Homo sapiens: one gene and its partners. The protein of the gene in region 6 purifies or fractionates together with the protein of the main gene of each other region. This does not show direct contact. Each region holds a gene or a part of one and is shown on either strand. Other genes may lie near its edges.

Region 1 (3,500 bases), on a different chromosome or scaffold from region 6:
TGTACAAGCAGTACAGAGTAATAACTTAGAAGGAAAATAATCCAAAGCCAGATTTACAATGTAACGTCTCCAGTGAGGGATTTGATTAACTCAACGTGCTGCTACAGGCGAAAACATGCTCATGACCTCGAGAAAGGTATTAAAAGTAAAGCAATATAAAATAACCTGTTATCTACATATGTATAATAAAACACTCTATTTGTCCATACTTTTAACACTGAGAACCAGTATAGTTCAGGTCATCATACTTCACAAAAGACACCAAGAAACTAAAAGTTAAGAAGGGCCTATCTGGACTATTTTTCAAAATATGAAGATTTTACTCTTTTTAAAGTTTACACATTTTAGCTAACAATGGCCATGATCAGAACTTATAAAATCCTGCGGGTATACGTAAATGTGAAAAAGATATAATTCATTTAGTAAATCCTATAATGAGAAGCCCTCTAAAATTTGGAGGACAAATAAAAACAAAATCCTTACATATAGCAGATATTAAAAAAAAAGTCTTGCTACCTCAAAACATGTCAAATGTAAACAGCTGAAACATGTCCTTTAGTAATACTATGAAAGACAGTAGTAGGCTGGAGGGATACACATCTATGTAATATTAAAATTATTTAAAGCCTAAAAGATCTATTTTTAGTAAACAATTGAATGAAATAGTATTTTGTTCAAGCACTAACACACCAAGTGAATTCTTCATCGCTAGAGGTAGTTAGGTGTAGCTTGGGTAATTATCCAATAAAGACAATAAAAGAGAGGAGAGTCAGGCATCAGATACAAAATATTGCAACCCTAAAATTTTATAATTCAACTAAACTTTCCGCAAAAGCAAGGGAGTGCCTAGTTGACTATCTCACTGCTACCCAAGACTGCTTCACATTTCATCCAGCTACTATCCACAGACTCAACATCTCGCCTCTGATTTTCAGTTTTGCTGTGACTAATAGGCCAGGCTGTTGTTTTATTCAACATCCCACTTTCTGGAGATTCTGCTTTCCTTACCACTGCAGTAATGACACTTTCAAGCTTCTTTATTTTTTTCTGCAACAAACTGAAGACTCTTATCGCAAATGGAAAGTGGGTTTCTTTTAAAGATGAACAACAAGAGACGAGCACAGACAGGATCACATGAAACGTTACTTTCTGCTTCAGGTTAAAGGACTCCTCCTCACCCACGCTTATTAAATCCTCCACCTTGAAAAATAAACACACTCTATTACCAGTTGCTCTTGATTTTCATAAAACAATTTTTTCAACTCAGGTCTATCTAGGTATTATGTGTTTTACATTTAAAGTGAGATGACAAACAGAAAGCCTTTATAAAGTACTAAGCACTGATTTCTAAGTAATTATAAGAATAATTTCAGAAACTGTAATGAACATAATTGCACTTGCCAACTGGTTAATGTATTTAAATCACACATCTAATCCTTTACAAAGGTTTATTTAATAAGGCAAAGATAATTTTCTCCTCTTTGGGATTATATTTTGCTATTTTAACAACAACAACAACAAAAAGACTAATATTTTAAATGGGAATGAGAAAAAATGGTGGTAAAAAGGATATATTATTCTTATGGGTGTGATATGGATCCACATTGAAAAAATATATAAAATGTTAAAAGATTTCAAACATTGCACAGAATATATTAAACAACACTGCAACGTTTAAAGTAAAACCAAGTACTCAAGAATAAAAGAAATTTTTTTTAAGAAAAATCTAGTAAAGCAAAAGCTGAGAATTTAATAAGAGTATGAGAAAGAAATCCAGGGGGTGGACTTTCAAAGCATACTTACCATCTTTAACATTGAAGAAGGATCTCCTAAATTTATATTATCAGCCAACAACTCAATCATCTTCTGATTTGCTACACCGATTAGTTTTCCTGGCTTTGTGCTTTTAATTACATTTTCAAGAGCTGTAAAGTAAAATCGAATGCAGAGAGCTCTTATGTCACCAACACTCAAAGAATCACATGAAGAATTCAGGCAAACATTTTACTATTGTTTATGAAGGTTTGCTTTCTATTTTTCCTTGTATCCGATTCTGAATTTGTCTATGAATTGGCTTCCTTTTCACTGTATACTTTTTATCTTGGCAAAAATTTTAAAAGACCTTACTGGCATATAAGCATGACCAACAATAAATTTTAAATTTTCCTTGTTTTCTTTTGTGTTATCTGTTCACTTTTTCTAAAAAAACAACTGAATTTTTTACCTTCTTCCCAGCCTCTTAATAGAGGGTGCAGGGAGCAGATTCCTGATTTTGATAAATATATAGCAATTTTCATCTCAGCAGATTCCGTATCATCATTATTGATAACCATAAATGGCAGCAAACATACAACCACCTGATTTGACAACTGATCATTTTCACTCAGTATCTCTTCTTTAATTAATATGTCAGCGGCTATCTTAAGTACCTCGTACCTAAAAGACATGCAAGCACACTTGGTTGAAAGACACATTGGAAGGCTTCAATTGGGCAAAAATTCATCATTACATTACTCCAGCTTAACTGACAATATCCTGGTCTCCTGACCAAAACTATTATTCAGATACACTAAGACACCACTTAAAATCCATGCCAATAACAGAGTTATCTGTGACAATATTTTTATTTATTTATTTTTTGTACAAGTGCTGGGATTACAGGCATGAGCCACTGTGCCTGGCCAACAATACTTTTAATCTGCTCATCCTGTCTAATCTTAAAAAAAAAATAATAATTTTTCTTAGAGAAATCACTAGAGGTTAACTATAACATAAGACATATCACACTAGATGTCTCAACTCTACCGGAAATCAGGTTCACTCAGGCACTCAAAAAAAATGAACCAAGCACATCCTACATGATAGATATCTACCCATACGATAGATACAAAAACACGTAAGACACACTCTCATCCTCTATGGAGCTTGCTTACTTTTTCTTGCAAAAAGCTTTGGTGCCAAAAATGAAATAAACAGAGCTCATTAAAAACTTACCACAGATGGTATCATGTGTCTCTGAACTTATTTTTTAATTTGTTTAACACATTGGTATTTGTTTTTAATTATAAAGTAAAAATTACATAAAGCAGCAAATTAGAAAGTCCTACCCATCTTACTTCCCAGAATGCAATATCATACATTATATACTTCCTTTTGCATTTTATTAAGAGAAATTCCAAACATAGAGAACAGTATAATGAACACACACAAACACAAATTAATTAACTGTATAATGAAAGAGAGTATTACAGTAAGATCTGTTCTACTACCACGACAAAAGGGTCATGTAATCAAAGCCTTAAAAAAAAAAAGAAGAAGAAATAGAAAGAACTTGATATAAGAACTTCATCAATTCAAAATAGTATGAGGAGAAATGAATACATACCATTCTCCATTCTTTGAAAGTTCTGCTCTTTGAAAGAGATTCAGAAGATTTGAAATCGTCACTTCTGAACTGAAGTGTTCTTTGAAAATCTAAAGGGAAAAAAATATCCAGAGTA
Region 2 (3,500 bases), on a different chromosome or scaffold from region 6:
AAATTCTGTAAAGCTTAGTGAAATTACAAAAATGCTTGGTTTTTTTGTTGATTTTTTTTTTTTGGAAACAGAGTTTCACTCTGTCACCCAGGCTAAAGTGCAGTGGCATGATCTCAGCTCACTGCAACCTCTGCCCACTAGGTTCAAGCAATTCTCCTGCCTCAGTCTCCCAAGCAGCTGGGATTACAGGCACGCGCCACCATGCTTGGCTAATTTTTTGTGTTTTTAGTGGAGATGGGCTTTTACCACGTTCGCCAGTCTGGTCTTGAACTCCTGACCTCAAGCGATCCACCTGCCTCATCCTCCCAAAGTGCTGGGATTACAGGCGTGAGTCACCACACCCGGCCGATGCTTGTTTTTTTAATTTTTTTTGAGATGTGATCTCACTCTGTCACCCAGGCTGGAGTGCAGTGGAGCAATTTCAGCTCACTACAGCCTCTCTCCTGGGCTCAAGTGATCCTCCTGCCTCAGCCTCCTGCGTAGCTGGGACTACAGCCAAGGGCATGTCACCACACTGGGCTAATTTTTAATTTTTTGAAGAGATGAGGTATCACTACATTGCCCAGGTTTGTCATGAACTCCTGGGCTCAAGCAATCCTCCCACCTTGGCCTCCCAAAATGCTGGGATTATAGGCATGAGGCACTGCACCTGGCTTCATGCCTTTTATAGAATAATATAATAAAAACATTTGATAAAAGTTTCAGAAGTCTATGAAGAGAACAGAAACCAATTTTTCAAATTGGAGATCTTCGTTAAAACTTGTCTGGATTATTTCAAGAAGTGACCATTTCTGCAAAATAACACAAGCTAGTCATTTTTTCTAACAATTTTTAAAATGCAAATTAACAGAAAAATTTTTATAGTTTAAAAATTCTAATTATAATACCCCTAACTATTAAAGCTTATAAAAGGATATGAGCATATAAAATCAAAGAGATTAAGTAGCCAAAGATCTGGGACTTGAAACTAGGGCTGTGATTCCTAACCTATTTTTACTATTATTCTACAGCAAACTATAGCATATTCTATTAAACCTTTCAAAACTAGTGCAGTGGTATGGGCAATTATAGCATAAGATTGTGACCATATTACATAATATTATAATAACTATCTATGTATAACTATATTATATAGTTAATATATTAACTATCACACCTGGGCATGGTGGCTCGCGCCTGTAATCCCAGCACTTTGGGAGGCCAAGGCAGGCAGATTGCCTGAGCTCCGGAGTTCGAGACCAGCCTAGGCAACCCGGTGAAACCCTGTCTCTACTAAAATACAAAAACTTAGCTGGGTGTGGCGGCGTGCGACTATAGTCCCAGGTACTCCGGAGGCTGAGGCAGAATTGCTTGAACCCAGGAGGCAGAGGTTGCAGTGACCTGAGATCATGCCACTGCATTCCAGTCTGGGCAACAGAACGAGACTCCATCTCCAAAATAAAAAAAGAAGATATTAACTATCACATAGCCACTTCAAAGGTTAAAGGGTAACTTTATGTCAGAAAAGTAGTGAAATAAGACTTATAAATGATGAGGGTACGTACAGGTGAGAAACAGAATTTGTACGGGAATGTAAAAGTCTAATTCGCTATCAGCATTTAGATATATAGATGACAGACAGATAGAAATTAACTGGCCAAAGAAAGACTCCTAACACAAAAAAAGCTTTCTGCAAACACCTTGGGAACAGCATGACACTAGTGAAAACAAAATGTTCTGGAATTACACGATTGATAAGATACTAGAATCTGTTGATACTTTAGGATTAGAAAACTGACATAAATTGTAAACTTGAATAAAGCCTTTCTAGATTTACCATAAAAAGACAATTCTTTGGGCTTCGTGTTCCATGTATGGTTCTCATTCTGTTAGAATAAACCCCTACTAATATGACAATTAAATAATGTAAATGTAAATAGCAGAATAATATATGCTACAGTGAGTTAACAGGTTGTTAAAAGTCAGTATTCTGGTCAGGCGCGGTGGCTCACACCTGTAAACCCAACACTCTGGGAGGCCAAAGCAAGTGGATCACCTGAGCTCAGGAGTTCGAGACCAGCCCAGCCAACATGGTGAAACCCTGTTTCTACTAAAAATACAAAAGATTAGCCGGGTGTGGTGGCGTGTGCCTGTAGTCCAATTACTTAAGAAGCTGAGGCAGGAGAATCACTTGAACCCAGTAGGTGGAGGTTGCAGTGAGCCGGGATCGAGCCACTGCACTCCAGCCTGGGCCACAAAAAAGAAAAGTCGGGATTCCACATCTGTTCTTGACTGATCCAAATATCTCCTTTTTAATACACTGTATGGAAAAATAACTGTTTTTAATTTGACACAATGTGAAAAACTAGTTTGTGAACAAATCAAGAAGTAAAATATATAAAAATAAAAGGAATAGTATATTTTAATTTTAAAAAACATTTAAGGCCGGACGGGGTGGCTCACGTGTTGCAATCCCAGCACTTTGGGAGGCCAAGGCAGTCGGATCACCTGAGGTCGGGAGTTCAAGACCAGCCTGACCAACATGGAGAAACCCCATTTCTACTAAAAATACACAATTAGCCAGGTGTGGTGGCGCATGCCTGTAATCCCAGCTACTTGGGAGGCTGAGGCAGGAGAATCGCTTGAACCCGGGGGGCAGAGGTTGCAGTGAGCCGAGACTGTGCCATTGCACTCCAGCCTGGGCAACAAGAGCAAAACTCCATCTCAAAAAAAAAAAAAATTAATGTGACACTGTCATTCCAAATTTTAAACTCATACCCTGAAGGTAAAAGAGCATTGTCAGTGGCTCCAAGAATGGGAAATAGTATTTCATATGATATTTTTGAGAGACAAGGAGAAAAAAGTCTGTATTTCACTACTACACTAAAGGTTTCATTTAATACAACTCTGGATATCTTCCTATGCTTATGCTTATGTATGTCAAAGATAATACTCCTTCCAAAAATGTCATTAAGTGCTAACATGCTGTTTCTCATAACAAAATTACCTACAATCAATTCACCTGTCACATCAGGTAGCTGGGATATTCCCCTCAATGCCAGCGCCCAGGCAAGTCTAACAGTGGCTTGGAGCCCAGGCAGTTTCCAAAGCTGTGAGTCCTGAAGACGAGAGTGAATTGTTGCAATGTACTGTTTTTCTGTCAACAGTGGAAGTTGATGAATCATATCTGAAAACACAAAAATAGACCACTTTACCGATCACCAGATAAATTCTCACTTCTGATACACAGGAATAATATCCAAAAGTCAGAAAATCTGAGCATTCTCACAGAAGAATAATGACCAATTAACATTAATTTCTACATCCCAAAAGGTACACTACTGTTGATTGTACACATACTAAAAACAAAAAAAGAAAATGACAATAATCCTAAATTTCAATTTCACTATTTTCAGTCATTTTTATAAGTGTACTACAAATAAACAAGAAAAAAGTTAGACACTCATTTTTTCTGCACATAAATTCTAAAATAGAAATCATGCTATCTAAAGATCACAAAA
Region 3 (3,500 bases), on a different chromosome or scaffold from region 6:
CTACGCGGCCCAGTCTGTGAGCGTGGGTGTAGGTGAGAGCACCCTGTGCTGGGATGGCGTCCAGTTCAGGGCTGGTTCCCAACTTGGACTCTGAATTGCCAAGAAAGGCTCCAGCCATTGAGACCCTGAACTGGAAGAGGGAGGCAAATAATTATCTTTTTATTAATCTTTCTTAAATGTATACACAGCTCACATTCATTCAATTTTTTTTTGAGACAGGGTCTTGCTCTGTCACCGAGGCTGGAGTGCAGTGGTGTGATCACAGCTCACTGCAACCTCCACCTCCCAGGCTCAAGTGGATCCTCCCACCTTAGCCTTTGAGTAGCTGGGACCATAGGCATGCTAATTTTTAAAATTTTTAGTAGAAATCATTTAAATTTTTTTTTTTTTTTGAGATGGAGTCTCGCTCTGTCGCCAGACTGGAGTGCAGTGGCGCGATCTTGGTTCACTGTAACCTCCGCCTCCTCAGTTTAAGCGATTCTCGTGCCTCAGTCTCCTGAGTAGCTGGGACTACAGGTGCGGGCCACTACACCCACTAATTTTTGTATTTTTAGTAGAGACGGGGTTTCACCATGTTGTCCAGGATGGTCTCCATCTCTTGACCTTGTGATCCGCCCACCTTGGCCTCCCAAAGTGCTGGGATTACAGGCGTGAGCCACTGCGCCCAGCTCATTTAAATGTTTAATACTAGAAGTGTTTTGGGTTTTATTTAAAAGTTTAGTGATGTTTTTGTTACCAGAAATATGCCATAGGAATTTAACTCTTCTTTATATTAATTAACCTAGGGTAGGAAGCATCATTACTGAATTATTTTATTCTTCAAAGTTTCTCACTTGATTCTCTGGTATTTCCAGATAAAAAATACGCCATTTGCAAAAAATAACTTTCCTTCTCTAATATTTATGCATCTTTTCTGTTTTGCACTTGCTAGGACTTAAATAATGAAATGTTGAGTGATAGTGGGCACAGAGGTCTTGCTCCAACTCTCCTGGGAATGCTAATGTTTAAGTATGATTCCCATTTTTAGTTTGAGATTTTAAAAAATTACATTATTTTTAATTTATGCCTATGCTATTATTTATTCCTATTCTGTTAATAAAGAAAGCAAGAAGACATTAAATTCCCTCAAAAGACTTTTCAGTATCTAATGAATTGATCTCATGCTTTTTCTCCTTTGACCTATCAATACAGTATTAACATAGAGCCACCTTTGTATTCTTAGCATCTTATTTCTAATTATGATTTGATTATCATGAGGAAAGGACAAGAACATAAAGGACAAGAACCCAAGCCTATCCCAACTGCTATATCCTTTTTATTCAGAATATCAAAAAACATGGCCGGGCGCGGTGGCTCACGCCTGTAATCCCAGCACTTTGGGAGGCCGAGGAGGGCGGATCACGAAGTCAGGAGATTGAGACCATCCTGGCTAACAAGGTGAAACCCCGTCTCTACTAAAAATACAAAAAATTAGCCAGGCATAATGGTGGGCACCTGTAGTCCCAGCTACTCAGGAGGCTGAGGCAAGAGAATGGCGCGAACCCAGGAGGCGGAGCTTGCAGTGAGCTGAGATCAAGCCACTGCACTCCAGCCTGGGTGACAGTGCAAACTCCGTCTCAAAAACAAAAAAACAAAAAAACCCACATACAACCCATTCCCATGTTAAGGTTTAACGTCAATCACATCACACAATAAAATTTTTAGGACTAACAGTGTAGAAAATATACGGTAAGTTGTAAGGCTAACATGCTTTTTAAACAGGGTTAGCCTTTCTGAAATAGAAAATGATTCTGTATCAAAGTTCATATTAATTCTGGAGTTGAGAATCAAAGTGAACCAAATGGCCTTGACTGTTCAGGTTTTCAGAATTATACAGTTACCTAGTCATGGAATTACATAAATTATTCTACAAGTTAATAATATTCAACTGATTCACAACACTACTTCAAAATTTTAAAGTTCAAAATCCAAGTCTGGAAGATAGGGGAGGTGCTAGAATCTTGTGATTAAAAAACAAAGCCCTAAGCATAGGAATTAGTAACAAGTTCTGTTCTACGGCACTGTCTTAGTAAAGTGACCAGCTCTCCATTCCTAGAATAAACAGCGTTCATGTTAGGGTGATCCCCCCTTATCTGTGGTTTTAATTACCTAAGGTCCGAACATATTAAATGAAAAATTCCAGAAATAAATAATTCGTAAGTTTTTTGTTTTGTTTTTGAGATGGAGTCTCGCTCTGCCACCCAGGCTAAAGTGCAGTAGTGTGATCTTGACTCACTGCAACCTCCGCCTCCCAGGTTTAAGTGATTCTCCTACCTGAGCCTCTCAAGTAGCTGGGATTATAGGCACGTGCCACCACGCCCGGCTAATTTTTAATTTTTGGTAGAGACGGGGTTTCACCATGTTGGCCAGGCTGGTCTCAAACTCCTGGCCTCAAGTAATCCGCCCACCTCAGTCTCCCAAAGTGCTGGGATTAGGCATGAACCACTGCACCTGGCCAATTCCTAAGTTTTAAATGGGGCAAGAGCATGTTCTGAGTAGCAAAATGAAAGTTTGCCCCCTCCTGCCTAGGACGTGAATCATCCCTTTGTCCAGTGTATCCATGCTGTATACGCTATCAGCCCATCTTGGTTATTAGATCTAAAAAACATGGTATACTTAGGCTTCGGCAGTGTATACAGACTTCAGTTTCAGGGATTCATTGGGGAGTCTTGCAATGTGTCCCCCTAGGATAAGGGGGAACAACTATAATTGGAAGCATTCCAATTTGTTCTTTGGAGAATACTTTCATTAGAAAAGGTGAAAAACAGTTGGACATGAACGTTTCAATATGAGGAGAGTTGCAGAACATAAAAAGTTTAGGTTTTCTAAAAAGCTATTCTAAGCCGCGCTTGGTAGTGTGCACCTGTAATCCCAGCTTCTCAGGAGGCTGAGGTGGGAAGACCGCTTGAGGCCAGTAGTTAAGAGACCAGCCTGGGCAATATTAGTGGCACTCTGTCTCAAAAAGAAAAATAAATAAAAATATAAAGCTATTCCAAAATATCTGAATCATCGCTAATTATTAAGATGAGGCCAATGTAACCTTGAACTCATAAAAACAATTTATACTCAAGAAAGGCTTTCTTTTTTTTCTTTTTGGAATAATCTAAAGCTATTATTTCCAAAACTTTGTTACCATTTTATAGCATGATCCACCCATCATCTGAAAAACAATACTTTTTATTCTTTGAATAGCAAGAATAGTAATTTTAAAACAGTACAAAATGTCTTTTGACATACACTAGAAAAGTAAAACATAACATTTTTGGAAACTCTCATGGCTGTTAGGGTAAAAATCATGGGTCAGGGAGGAGGGTGGTTAAGAGAGTTGAACTCCATGAATTACCAGTGGAGTTCATGGATATTTCAGACAGCCTTCAAATTGTGATGGAGTGATAAACAGTATGGGACTACACAGTGATGAAACCCGGACATGAATCCTTTTGACGGTTATCTTTTGACAA
Region 4 (3,500 bases), on a different chromosome or scaffold from region 6:
ACAATTCAGACTCCATTATGTATGTCCTCACAATGCAGGAGGTGAAATGTGTATGTCATGTGTCCAAATTGTAAGATACTTGCTGTAAGTAGCAAAAAGATGGGAAGGAAAGTCTACAGACCAAATCATATCTGAATCTCCCCATTCTCCCTCTCCACAAATATTGGTTTAGGAATTCTCCGAAGTTTGAAGGTTATGAATGGTTATCACTCAAGGATTCAGAACTAAGGTAAAAATACTGTGAATGATAGGGGGAAAAAATCACTAATTGAGGTCTAAATCAATATCCTTCAGCTCTCTAAGGAAATGTATTTTTAATATAATAGCTTTATTGAGACATTCATACACCATAAAGTCCAAATTTTACTTTTTATTTTATTTATTTGGTTTTTTTTTTTTTTGAGATGGAGTTTCACCCTTGTCACCCAGGCTGGAGTGCAATGGCATGATCTCGGCTCACTGCAACCTCCACCTCCTGGGTTCAAGCAATTCTCCTGCCTCAGCCTCTTGAGTAGCTGGGATTACAGTCGCGCACCACTACGCCCAGCTAACTTTTGTACTTTCAGTAGAGACAGCGTTTCACCATGTTGGTCAAGCTGGTCTCGAACTCCTGACCTCAGGTGATCCACTCGCCTGAGCCTCCCAAAGTGCTGGGATTACAGGCATGAGCCACCTCACCCAGCCTAAAGTTCAACCTTCTAAAGTGTACAATGGAGTGTTTAGTATATTCAGTGGGCTGCACATTCATCACTATCACCCTTTCCTCACCCTAAAAGAAAACTCCATACCTGCTAGCACTCACTGATTCCCCTACCCACCCCATGCCCAGGCACATGGCAAGCACCAATCTACTGTCTATGGATGTGCTGATTCTGGACATTTCCCATAAGTGGGACCAAAAAAATGTGTGGTCTTTTTGTCTGATTTCCTTCAGGCAGTCTAATGAGTTTAAGGTTCACTCATGTTGTTACATGTATCATTACTTTATTCTTTTATTGCGAAGTAATATTTCCTTGTATAGTTAGAAGACATTTTGTTTATCCATTCACCAGTGGATGGACAGTTGAATTGTTTCCACTTTTTGGCTGTGGTGAATAATGTTGCCATGAACATTCATGTACAAGTTTTTGTGTCAACATATGTTGTCTTTTCTCTTGCACATATACCTAGGAGTGAAATTACTGAGTCAAATGGTAACTCAGGCTGGAGTGCAATGGCACGATCTCGGCTCAACGCAACCTCTGCCTCCCAGGTTCAAGTGATTCTCATGCCTCAGCCTCTCGAGTAACTGGAATTACAGGCATGCGTCACCACACCCAGCTTATTCAGACTGTTTTCCAAATTGGCTGTAACATTTTATGTTCCTATTAGCAAAGTATGAGCGTTTGAATTTCTCCACATTCTTGTCAACACTTGCTGTTGCCTTTTTTATTAAAGCCATTTTATTGGGTATGAAGTGGTAACTTACATTGTGGTTTTGATTTGCATTTCTCTAATGATGAATGATGTTGCACATCTTTTCATGTGCTTATTGGCCATTTGTATATTTTCTCTGGAGAAATGTCTATTCAAATGTTTTACCCATTTTTTTAATTGGGTTGTCTTTTTTTAATTGAGAGTAGGGCTTTTTAAATATTCTGGATATAAGTCCCTTATAAGACATATGATTTGTGGCCAGGCGCAGTGGCTCACACCTGTAATCCCAGCACTTTGGGAGACCAAAGTGAGTGGATCACTTGAGGTCAGGAGTTCAAGACCAGCCTGGCCAACACGGCAAAACCCCATCTCTACTAAAAATACAAAAATTAGCTGGGCGTGGGGGCGCACACCTGTAATCCCAGCTAATCTGGAGGCTGAGGCAGGAGAATCACTTGAACCTGGGAGGCAGAGCCTGCAGTGAGCTGAGATCATGCCAATGCATTCCAGCCTGGGTGACAGAGTGAGACTTTGTCTCAAAAAATATACATTATTTGCATATATTTTCTCCCATTCTATGAGTTGTCTTTTCTCTTTCTTGATGGTGTCCTTAAAAGCACAAAGGTTTTAATTTTGTGAAGTTCAATGTATCCATTTTTCTCTTCTGCCTTTTGTGATTTTGATGTCATAGCTAAAAAATGATTGCCTACCCCAAAGCGATGAAGATTTAGTCCTATATTTTCTTGTAAGAATTTTATAGTTTTAGCTCTTACATTTAGTCTATGATCCACTTTGAAGTTTTTATGACGTGAAGTATGGGTCCAGCTTCATTCTAACGCATGTGGATATCAAGTTGTACCGGCAACAATCTTTCCACAGTGAACAGTCATGGCTCCTATATTAGCCAGGGTCCTCAAGAGAAAATGAACCAATAAGAAATAGATGGATGGGCACAGTGGCTCACACCTGTAATCCCAGCACTTTGGGGGGCCCAGGCAGGCAGATCACTTGAGGTCAGGAGTTCGAGACCAGCCTGGCCAACATGGTGAAACCCCTGTCTCTATTAAAAATACAAAAAATTAGCTGGGTATGGTGAGGCACATCCGTAGTCCCAGCTGCTCAGGAGGCTGAGGCACAAGAATCACTTGAGCCTGGGAGGCAGAGGTTGCAGTGAGCCAAGATTGTGCCACTGCACTCCAGCCTGGGTGACAGAGTGAAACTGTCTCAAAAAAAAAAAAAAGGTAGATAGATAGATTTATTTTAAGGAATCTGCTACATAATTATGAGAGATGGAAAGTTCAAATCCTGCAGGGCAGGCTAGCAGGCTGGAAATTCAGGTTTGAGTTGATGTTGTAGTCTTGAGTTTGAAATCTGAAGGGCAAACCAGCAGGTGGAGATTCGGGCAAGGTTTCTGTGCTGTGGTCTTGTAGCAGAATTGTTTCTTCCCCCAGAAACCTCCATCTTTGCTATTAAGGCCTTCAACTGATTAGATGAAGCCCACCCACCTTGTGGAGGGTAATTTGCTTTAGTTAAAGTCAACTGATTATAAATGTTAAATTGTATCCACAGATACTTTCCCAGCAACATCTAGACTGCTGTTTGACCAAACAACGGGGCTCCAACAGCCTAGCCAAGTGAAACATAAAACTAACCATCACAGTATCCTTGTCAAAAATCAGTCTGACAACACATGTAAGGTTTATTTCTGGAGTCACTATTCAATTCCATTGATCTATATGTCTGTCCTTATGCCGGTAACACTTGTGTCTTAATTATTATAGCTTTTTTTTTTTTTTTTGAGACGGAGTCTAGCTCTGTCACCAGGCTAGAGTGCAGTGGTGGAATCTCAGCTCACTGCAATCTCCGCCTCCTGGGTTCAAGCAATTCCCTTGCCTCAGCCTCCCAAGTAGCTGGGACTACAGGCATGCACCCTCACGCCCGGCTAATTTTTTGTATTTTAGTACAGATGGGGTTTCACCATGTTGGCCAGGATGGTCTCGATCTTCTGACCTCATGATCTGCCCGCCTCAGCCTCCCAAAATGCTAGGATTATAGGTGTGAGCCACTGCACCCGGCCATTATTA
Region 5 (3,500 bases), on a different chromosome or scaffold from region 6:
AAAGCTGGGGACTCAGATAAACTACCCAATTTATGTTCAGAGTTTAAGGACAACATCATTAGGATAAGAGGAAATTGAAGGAAAATAGAATTCATGATCTTAAAGTCTTCCTTAATGTCATGTGTATAACAGAAGGAATCCCAACTCTTGAACATGAATAGTGACTTGGGACTGAAAGCACTCCTAGAGACCTTTCCTAGAAAAATGTACCTTCTTAAAAAAGATACTATTATTCTAGGACTCATATATTCCTATAATTTTTTAAATACAACTGGTACTCAAGGCACACAAGAAAAAAATATCATAAGCTAGCAGACACAGACTTAGAAAATTTAGAAACTGGAATTATCTTCAACAAACAACAAATGAACTATGAATATAGTCGGCCCTTCATAGCCACAGATTCACTCAACCAAGGATTAAAAATACATGTATATTTTTAAAAACACGACTATAAAAAATAATAGAAATTTTTAAAAAGCCATGACAGTATAACAATATTTACATAGCATCTACATTGTATTAGGTACCATAAGCAATCTAGAGATTATTTAAAATACGTGGGAGGATGTGTGTAGGCCGTATGCAAACATGATGGCATGTTATATAAGGAATTTGAGCTGCCTGTGGATTGTGGTATCTGCACGGGGTTCTGAAACCAATTTCCAGCAGATACTAAGGAGCAACTATACTAGGCCAATAAAAGCAAGATTGTAATTTTCAGCAGGTAACCAGAAACAGTAAGAATATCACCAATATCTTTAAAAAGATACTGATGCATTGATCTAATAATCTCGATGAATACAGGGCAAGATAAAGAATGCCACACGATGATTGAACATTTCCTCTACCCCCACAACCACACTTGACTAGGAGAAAAAAAAAAAAGAAGAAAAGAATTCCACACAAAAAGATTAGAGTGAAACAGCAGAAAAATTACAACCAAAAAAAGAAACAAACAAAAAAAAATTCTAAAAGAGAGATTTCCTTCAAAGCAGCATGAATTATTAGGTTGGTACAAAATTAATTGTGGTTTTTGCATTGTTGGAATTTGCCATTTGATATTGGAATTTTTTTTTTTTTTTTTTTTTTTTTGAGATGGAGTCTCTCTCTGTTGCCCAGGCTGGGCTGCAGTGGCGCGATCTCGGCTCACTGCAAGCTCTGCCTCCAGGGTTCACACCATTCTCCTGCCTCAGCCTTCTGAGTAGCTGGGACTACAGGCACCCGCCACCACGCCTGGCTAATTTTTTGTATTTTTAGTAGAGACAGGGTCTCACCATGTTAGCCAGGATGGTATCGATCTCCTGACCTCGTGATCCGCCCACCTCAGCCTCCCAAAGTGCTGGGATTACAGGTGTGAGCCACCACACCCGGCCTGGAATACATTCTTAAATAAATGTGGTTATGTTATATGTCATTTTAATGGGCATTTCTTGCTTTTTTTTTTTGGCTAATGACTTATTACTTGCTGTTTATATTTATTTTGGACTATGGAAATGATGCTAGACAAAAAGCAAAGTTGAGTGATTTTCTTATTTAAGTTCAAAGTGGGTCGTAAAACAGCAGAGACAACTTGCAATATCAACAATGCATTTGGCCCAGGAACTGCTAATGAACGTACAGTGCAGTGGTGGTTCAAGAAGTTTTGCAAAAGATACCAGAGCCTTGAGGATGAGGAGTGTAGTGGCAGGCCACTGGAAGTTGACAACAACCAATTGAGAGCAATCATTGAAGCAGATTGATCCTCTTACAATTACATGAGAAGTTGCTGAAGAACTCAACGTAAGAACTCAACGTCAACCATTCCACAGTTGTTCAGTATTTGAAGCAAATTGAAAAGGTGAAAAAGCTCGATAAGTGGGTGCCTCACCAGCTGAGCAAAAATTTAAAAAAACACCGTTTTGAAGTGTTGTCTTCTCTTATTCTCCACAACAACGAACCATTTCTCAATCGGACTGTGAGGTGCAACAAAAACTAGATTTTATATGACAAGCAATGACCAGCTCAGTGGCTGGACCGCGAAGAAGCTCCAAAGCACTTCCCAAAGCCAAACTTGCACCAAAAAAGGCCATGGTAACTGTTTGCTGGTCTGCTGCCGGTCTGATCCACTACAGCTTTCTGAATCCTGGAGAAACCATTACATCTGAGAAGTATGCTCAGCAAATCAATGAGATGCACTTAAAACTGTGATGCCTGCAGCCAGCATGGGTCAACAGAAAGGGCCCAATTCTCCACAGTAACACCCAACCGCACACTGCACAACCAACACTTCAAAAGTTGAACGAACTGGGCTACAAAGTTTTGCCTCATCTGCCATATTCACCTGACCTCTCAACTGACTACCACTCCTTCAAGCATCTCTACAACTTTTTTCAGGGAAAATGCTTCCACAACCAGCAGGATGCAGGAAAAAGCTTTCCAAGAGTTTGTGGAATCCTGAAGCATGGATTTTTACATTACAGGAAAAAACAAACTTATTTCTTGTCGGCAAAAATGTGTTGATTGTAATGACCTATTTTAATTAATAAAGATATGTTAGAGCCTCGTTATAATGATTTAAAATTCGCTGTCCCAAACCACAATTTCTTTTGTACCAACCTAATGCATTGACAGCTGATTTCTCAAAATCAATAATGAAAACCAAAAACAGTGAAATGTTATCTTCAAGGTACAAGTAAAACAACCACAAATCTGTAATATCCCCCAAAACATTCTTCAAGATTGAAGGCAAAACAAAAAATTAAGACAAAGCAAAAAAATTAAGAGAACTGACCATCAGAATGTCTGCATTATGAAACTTCTACTGAGTGTGCTAAAGTAAAAGTTAAAAGATTCCAAAAGAAAAGTCAGAGACGCAGGAAGAAATTAAGACATGGTAAACACATAGGAACATCTAGCTCAAAGTACTGTCCAGCAGCAATACAGTAAAAGTGACATAAGTAATTTAAAATTTTCTATTGTTCACACTAAAAGAAAACAAGGTGAAATCAATTATAATTTCAACATGTAATCATAATGAAAAGCTGAGGTATTTTACATTGTTTTCATACTGTCTTTGAAATATGGTGTTTATACAACATTACAATGCAGATGCTAAATTAAAACTGCCATATAAAATACTTGATCTATATTTTTATATAATTTGCAGCTAATGCCGGGTGCAGTGGCTCACGTCTGTGATCCCATCACTTTGGAAGCCCAAGGTGGGTGGATCACTTGAGGTCAGGAGTTTGAGACCAGCCTAGCCAAAATGGTGAAACTTTGCCTCTACTAGAAATAAAAACATTAGCCAGGTGTGGTGGCACATGCTTGTAATCCCAGCTACTAGGGAGGCTGAGGCAGGAGAATCACTTGAACTTGGGAGGCGGAGGTTGCAGTGAGCCAAGATCATGCCACTGGACTCCAGCCTGGGCAACAGAGCGAGACTCCATCTCCAGGGGGGAAAAAATCTCCAAAAATTAAAAAATAATAATTTAATAATTTGCGGTTAAGAAAGGTTT
Region 6 (3,500 bases):
AAAAAAACAAAAATACCAAACATTACATCCAGATGGGATTACAGGTCATCTCTACTTTTTTTTTTAAAAAACACTAAAACCGTTCTGGGCCAGGTGCAGTGGCTCACGCCTGTAATCCCACCACTTTGGGAGGCGAAGGCAGGCGGATCACCTGAGGTCAGGAGTTCGAAACCAGCCTGGCCAACATGGTGAAACCCTGTCTCTACTAAAAATACAAAAATTAGCCAGGCGTGGTGGCAGGTACCTGTAATCCCAACTACTCAGGAGGCTAAGGCAGCAGAATTGCTAGAACCAGGAGGCTGAGGTTGCAGTGAGCTGAGATCACACCACTGCATTCCAGCCTGAGTGACAGAGCGAGACGCCATCTAAAAAAAAAAAAAAAAAAAAAAGTTCCGTAGCTTTCATAACCAGAAATAATTTCATTTTGAAATTTAAAATAAGATTAAGTTAAAACTCCAAATTATAGTGTCCTATATCACTTCCAAAACTCTTTATAAACACTCTGCCTTCCCATGTCATTTGTGGAATCAGTCTAAACAATTAAATATTTGGTTTATCTCATGGAAAAATGATAGGCATAGAATAAATAACAACCCTATTTCAAGTTATAACCATCTTGTCTTCATACCAATTCTTGCCAGTTATGTCATGATTTATCAATATACTTATAATTTCCTTATATTTTGCCAGATTATAAATCTATGAATAATTCTGAAAACTAAATAAATTTATATTTCTCTTCTGCAACTAAGTTATAAAAGTATTAACGACTTGGGGAGGCTGAGGCAGGGAGAATCACTTGAACCCAGGAGGCGGAGGTTACAGTGAGCCGAGATCGCGCCACTGCACTCCAGCCTGGGCAACAGAGCGAGACTCTGTCTCAAAAAAAAAAAAAAAAAAAAAAAGTATTAACTAATAAAGAAATTAGATTTCGACCCCAGGTAAGTGAAATCAGAAAAGCTTGCTATCATCTGTCATAACAGAATCATTCTGAATATCCGTAGTTATCAGCATCAAGACAATACCTCTGTGGTTAAAGTACTCCATACTCCATGTTAAGGGAAAAGAGTACTTAAGAATATTATTACAGCATAAGTTCATGTGCTTTGTTCATTAAATCAACAGTTCAGAACATAGCTATGAGGTATTTCACCACTAACAGAATAGCTTTAAGGTAACCCACCTTCACAATTTTCTTTTTGTTTTCGTTAGTTTCATGCCTTACTATTTTATAGACAGTCATTCTATCCACATTGCCCAAGTACTATGTCCCCAAACAACGACGACAAAGTTTTATCACAACCCAAAAGAAAAAAACAACCTTTTAGGCCAGGCACAGTGGCTCATGTCTACAATCCCAGCACTTTGGGAGGCCAAAGCAGGAGGACTACCTTTGAGCCCAGGAGTTCAAGACCAGCCTGGGCAACGTAGCAAAACCCTGTCTCTACAAAAAATGAAAATTATAATTTTTAAAAAGAAAAAATACATTTTACACGGCAACCAAGTATACATACATAAAAATATCTTTTAAAAAGAAACAAAAGTTTCCCAAATCTTGAACCCGGGAGGCAGAGGTTACAGTGAGCCGAGATCGTGCCACTGCACTCTAGCCTGGGCAAACAGAGCAAGATTCTGTGTCCAAAAAAAAAAACAAAACAAAACAGTATTAACTACTAAAGAAATTAGATTTAGACCCCAGATAAGTGAAATCAGAAAAGCTTGCTACCATCTGTTGTAACAGAATCATTCTGAATATCTGCAGCTATCAGCATCAAGACAATACCTCTGTGTCTATATTTACTTTTACTTTATGCAATGTACTGATATATTCTCTTTCTGAAAATGCTTTTTTAAATAAGTACATTGATTTCATTACCCTATGACACTGCCACCTGCTACTTAAAAACACAGCCTTAGAACTTTACACAGAATGTGCTGAACTCCTTGCTCCTACCACCTTCTACCACTGCTCCAACATAAGAAAATGGGTGAAATCTAGCCAAGTCTATTCCAAGTAGAGACCTTGGCATAAATGTGAGACATCCCAGGTTCCTCTGAAGTCCCTGCAACATTGTGACTATTCCGACTGGCAGACAGGATACATGTGCTGAAAGGTTTCTCCAGCCAGAGTACAGAAGCAGAAACCTTCTCTGTTGCCATATCAGTGATATTGGTAAATTCTGCACTTGACAATACAGACTAGGTTTACCACTGCTCCACAAGCCAATTCTTCAAAGACATAAAATAGGATTCTAATACAATACGATTCTAATACCAGCCCCTTACATTTTTAGAATGCTTTTCATATACACTATTGTTTGATCCACAGTCTGTTAGAAAAGTAGAAAAGTTGCTCTTCTTCCTTTCACTAATGAGGGAACTGGAGCTCAGGGGGGTTATGTAGCTTGCCAGAAACAACATGGGTAATGAAGAATAACAACCCAGGCTTGAACCCAAGATTTACTATCTACCCACTTTCATGCTACAATTTTCATTTTTAATATCTGATACAAATATGAACTTAAAAGGTATATTGTTTCTAGATACAAAAGCAAAGATGAAAGCATATCAGTATTGATATCACAAAATTAAGATTAAAAATAGCAATGACATGTTAATAATTTGGTAGCCTCTAAAGTTACTGGGAGTTCTAGTTCAATCCAGTATGAATCTGATATCATCTTATAACTTAAATCAATGTTACACTGATTATAAATTTATCTATATATTCATCATAGAAAATTACAGAATTAGGTGGTAAGAAACAGCTAGCTATATAAATTGCACAAACTCCCCCCAAACCATTCTCAAGTCTCATGACTTCACACTAAATTATGAAGTTCCCAATGTAAAACCCAATTTGATTTCAACACTAAGCCAATTACAACAGCATAAGCATGTTCTTTCTACATAACACTTGCAACATACATTCAACATCGGAAGCACTTTTGGACAATGTCTAAAATCCATAAGCTAAAAGCAGAACCCAACACAGAATCTTGTTTCTTTTAAATAATAAAAGTTCATCTACCTATATGAGATGAATACCAAATAACATAATTAGAAATGATTAAAAATTTGCAGAATCAGGCTAGAGAAACTACTTGAGGTCAAAGACTATAGGCCCTTAATTGTATATATGAGAAAACTGACGCCCAGAGAAGTTAAGTGACATTCCCAACAGCAATAAATGACACAGATGGAATCAGAATATATGTCTGTCAATCCAGAACTTCCCACTATTCTATACTACCTTTGCACTTACTGTGCTCTTAAAAAAGTAACTAACATCTGAAACACTTAAGATTCATTAAGACTCAAAAACTAGGGGACTCGATAATGTTCATGACAGTCTTTAGAAAACAATTTCTTAAAGGAATCTCAAAAATTCCAAACAATAAGCACTGAAAGCTGGCTCTTCATTTTCATTTTCTTTCCTACCCAGAGCCCTATTTGATCAAAAATTGGCTCTTTAATCCATTGCAAAATATCAGGTAGCT

The links.
Region 1: the proteins of MTMR3 (region 6) and HEATR1 purify together in Homo sapiens (affinity purification with mass spectrometry, with the first as the bait; one large-scale study listed by BioGRID). This does not show direct contact.
Region 2: the proteins of MTMR3 (region 6) and NUP205 purify together in Homo sapiens (affinity purification with mass spectrometry, with the first as the bait; one large-scale study listed by BioGRID). This does not show direct contact.
Region 3: the proteins of MTMR3 (region 6) and MAPK1IP1L purify together in Homo sapiens (affinity purification with mass spectrometry, with the first as the bait; one large-scale study listed by BioGRID). This does not show direct contact.
Region 4: the proteins of MTMR3 (region 6) and IPO5 purify together in Homo sapiens (affinity purification with mass spectrometry, with the first as the bait; one large-scale study listed by BioGRID). This does not show direct contact.
Region 5: the proteins of MTMR3 (region 6) and ORC4 purify together in Homo sapiens (affinity purification with mass spectrometry, with the first as the bait; one large-scale study listed by BioGRID). This does not show direct contact.

The regions. Positions count from the first base shown.
Region 1 is NC_000001.11:236,584,017-236,587,516, forward strand, and holds part of HEATR1 (HEAT repeat-containing protein 1), read right to left. Parts: intron 3,475-3,500; coding exon 3,386-3,474; intron 2,437-3,385; coding exon 2,225-2,436; intron 1,926-2,224; coding exon 1,804-1,925; intron 1,201-1,803; coding exon 1,009-1,200; intron 1-1,008. UniProt on the Homo sapiens protein: Ribosome biogenesis factor; required for recruitment of Myc to nucleoli. Involved in nucleolar processing of pre-18S ribosomal RNA. Required for optimal pre-ribosomal RNA transcription by RNA polymerase I.
Region 2 is NC_000007.14:135,578,417-135,581,916, reverse strand, and holds part of NUP205 (nuclear pore complex protein Nup205), read right to left. Parts: intron 3,167-3,500; coding exon 3,002-3,166; exon of another isoform or gene 2,991-3,001; intron 1-2,990. UniProt on the Homo sapiens protein: Plays a role in the nuclear pore complex (NPC) assembly and/or maintenance. May anchor NUP62 and other nucleoporins, but not NUP153 and TPR, to the NPC.
Region 3 is NC_000014.9:55,054,647-55,058,146, reverse strand, and holds part of MAPK1IP1L (MAPK-interacting and spindle-stabilizing protein-like), read right to left. Parts: intron 1-3,500.
Region 4 is NC_000013.11:97,960,175-97,963,674, forward strand, and holds part of IPO5 (importin-5), read left to right. Parts: intron 1-172; exon of another isoform or gene 173-229; intron 230-2,985; exon of another isoform or gene 2,986-3,108; intron 3,109-3,500. UniProt on the Homo sapiens protein: Functions in nuclear protein import as nuclear transport receptor. Serves as receptor for nuclear localization signals (NLS) in cargo substrates.
Region 5 is NC_000002.12:148,014,238-148,017,737, forward strand, and holds part of ORC4 (origin recognition complex subunit 4), read right to left. Parts: intron 1-3,500. UniProt on the Homo sapiens protein: Component of the origin recognition complex (ORC) that binds origins of replication. DNA-binding is ATP-dependent. The specific DNA sequences that define origins of replication have not been identified yet.
Region 6 is NC_000022.11:29,886,174-29,889,673, reverse strand, and holds part of MTMR3 (phosphatidylinositol-3,5-bisphosphate 3-phosphatase MTMR3), read right to left. Parts: intron 1-3,500. UniProt on the Homo sapiens protein: Lipid phosphatase that specifically dephosphorylates the D-3 position of phosphatidylinositol 3-phosphate and phosphatidylinositol 3,5-bisphosphate, generating phosphatidylinositol and phosphatidylinositol 5-phosphate.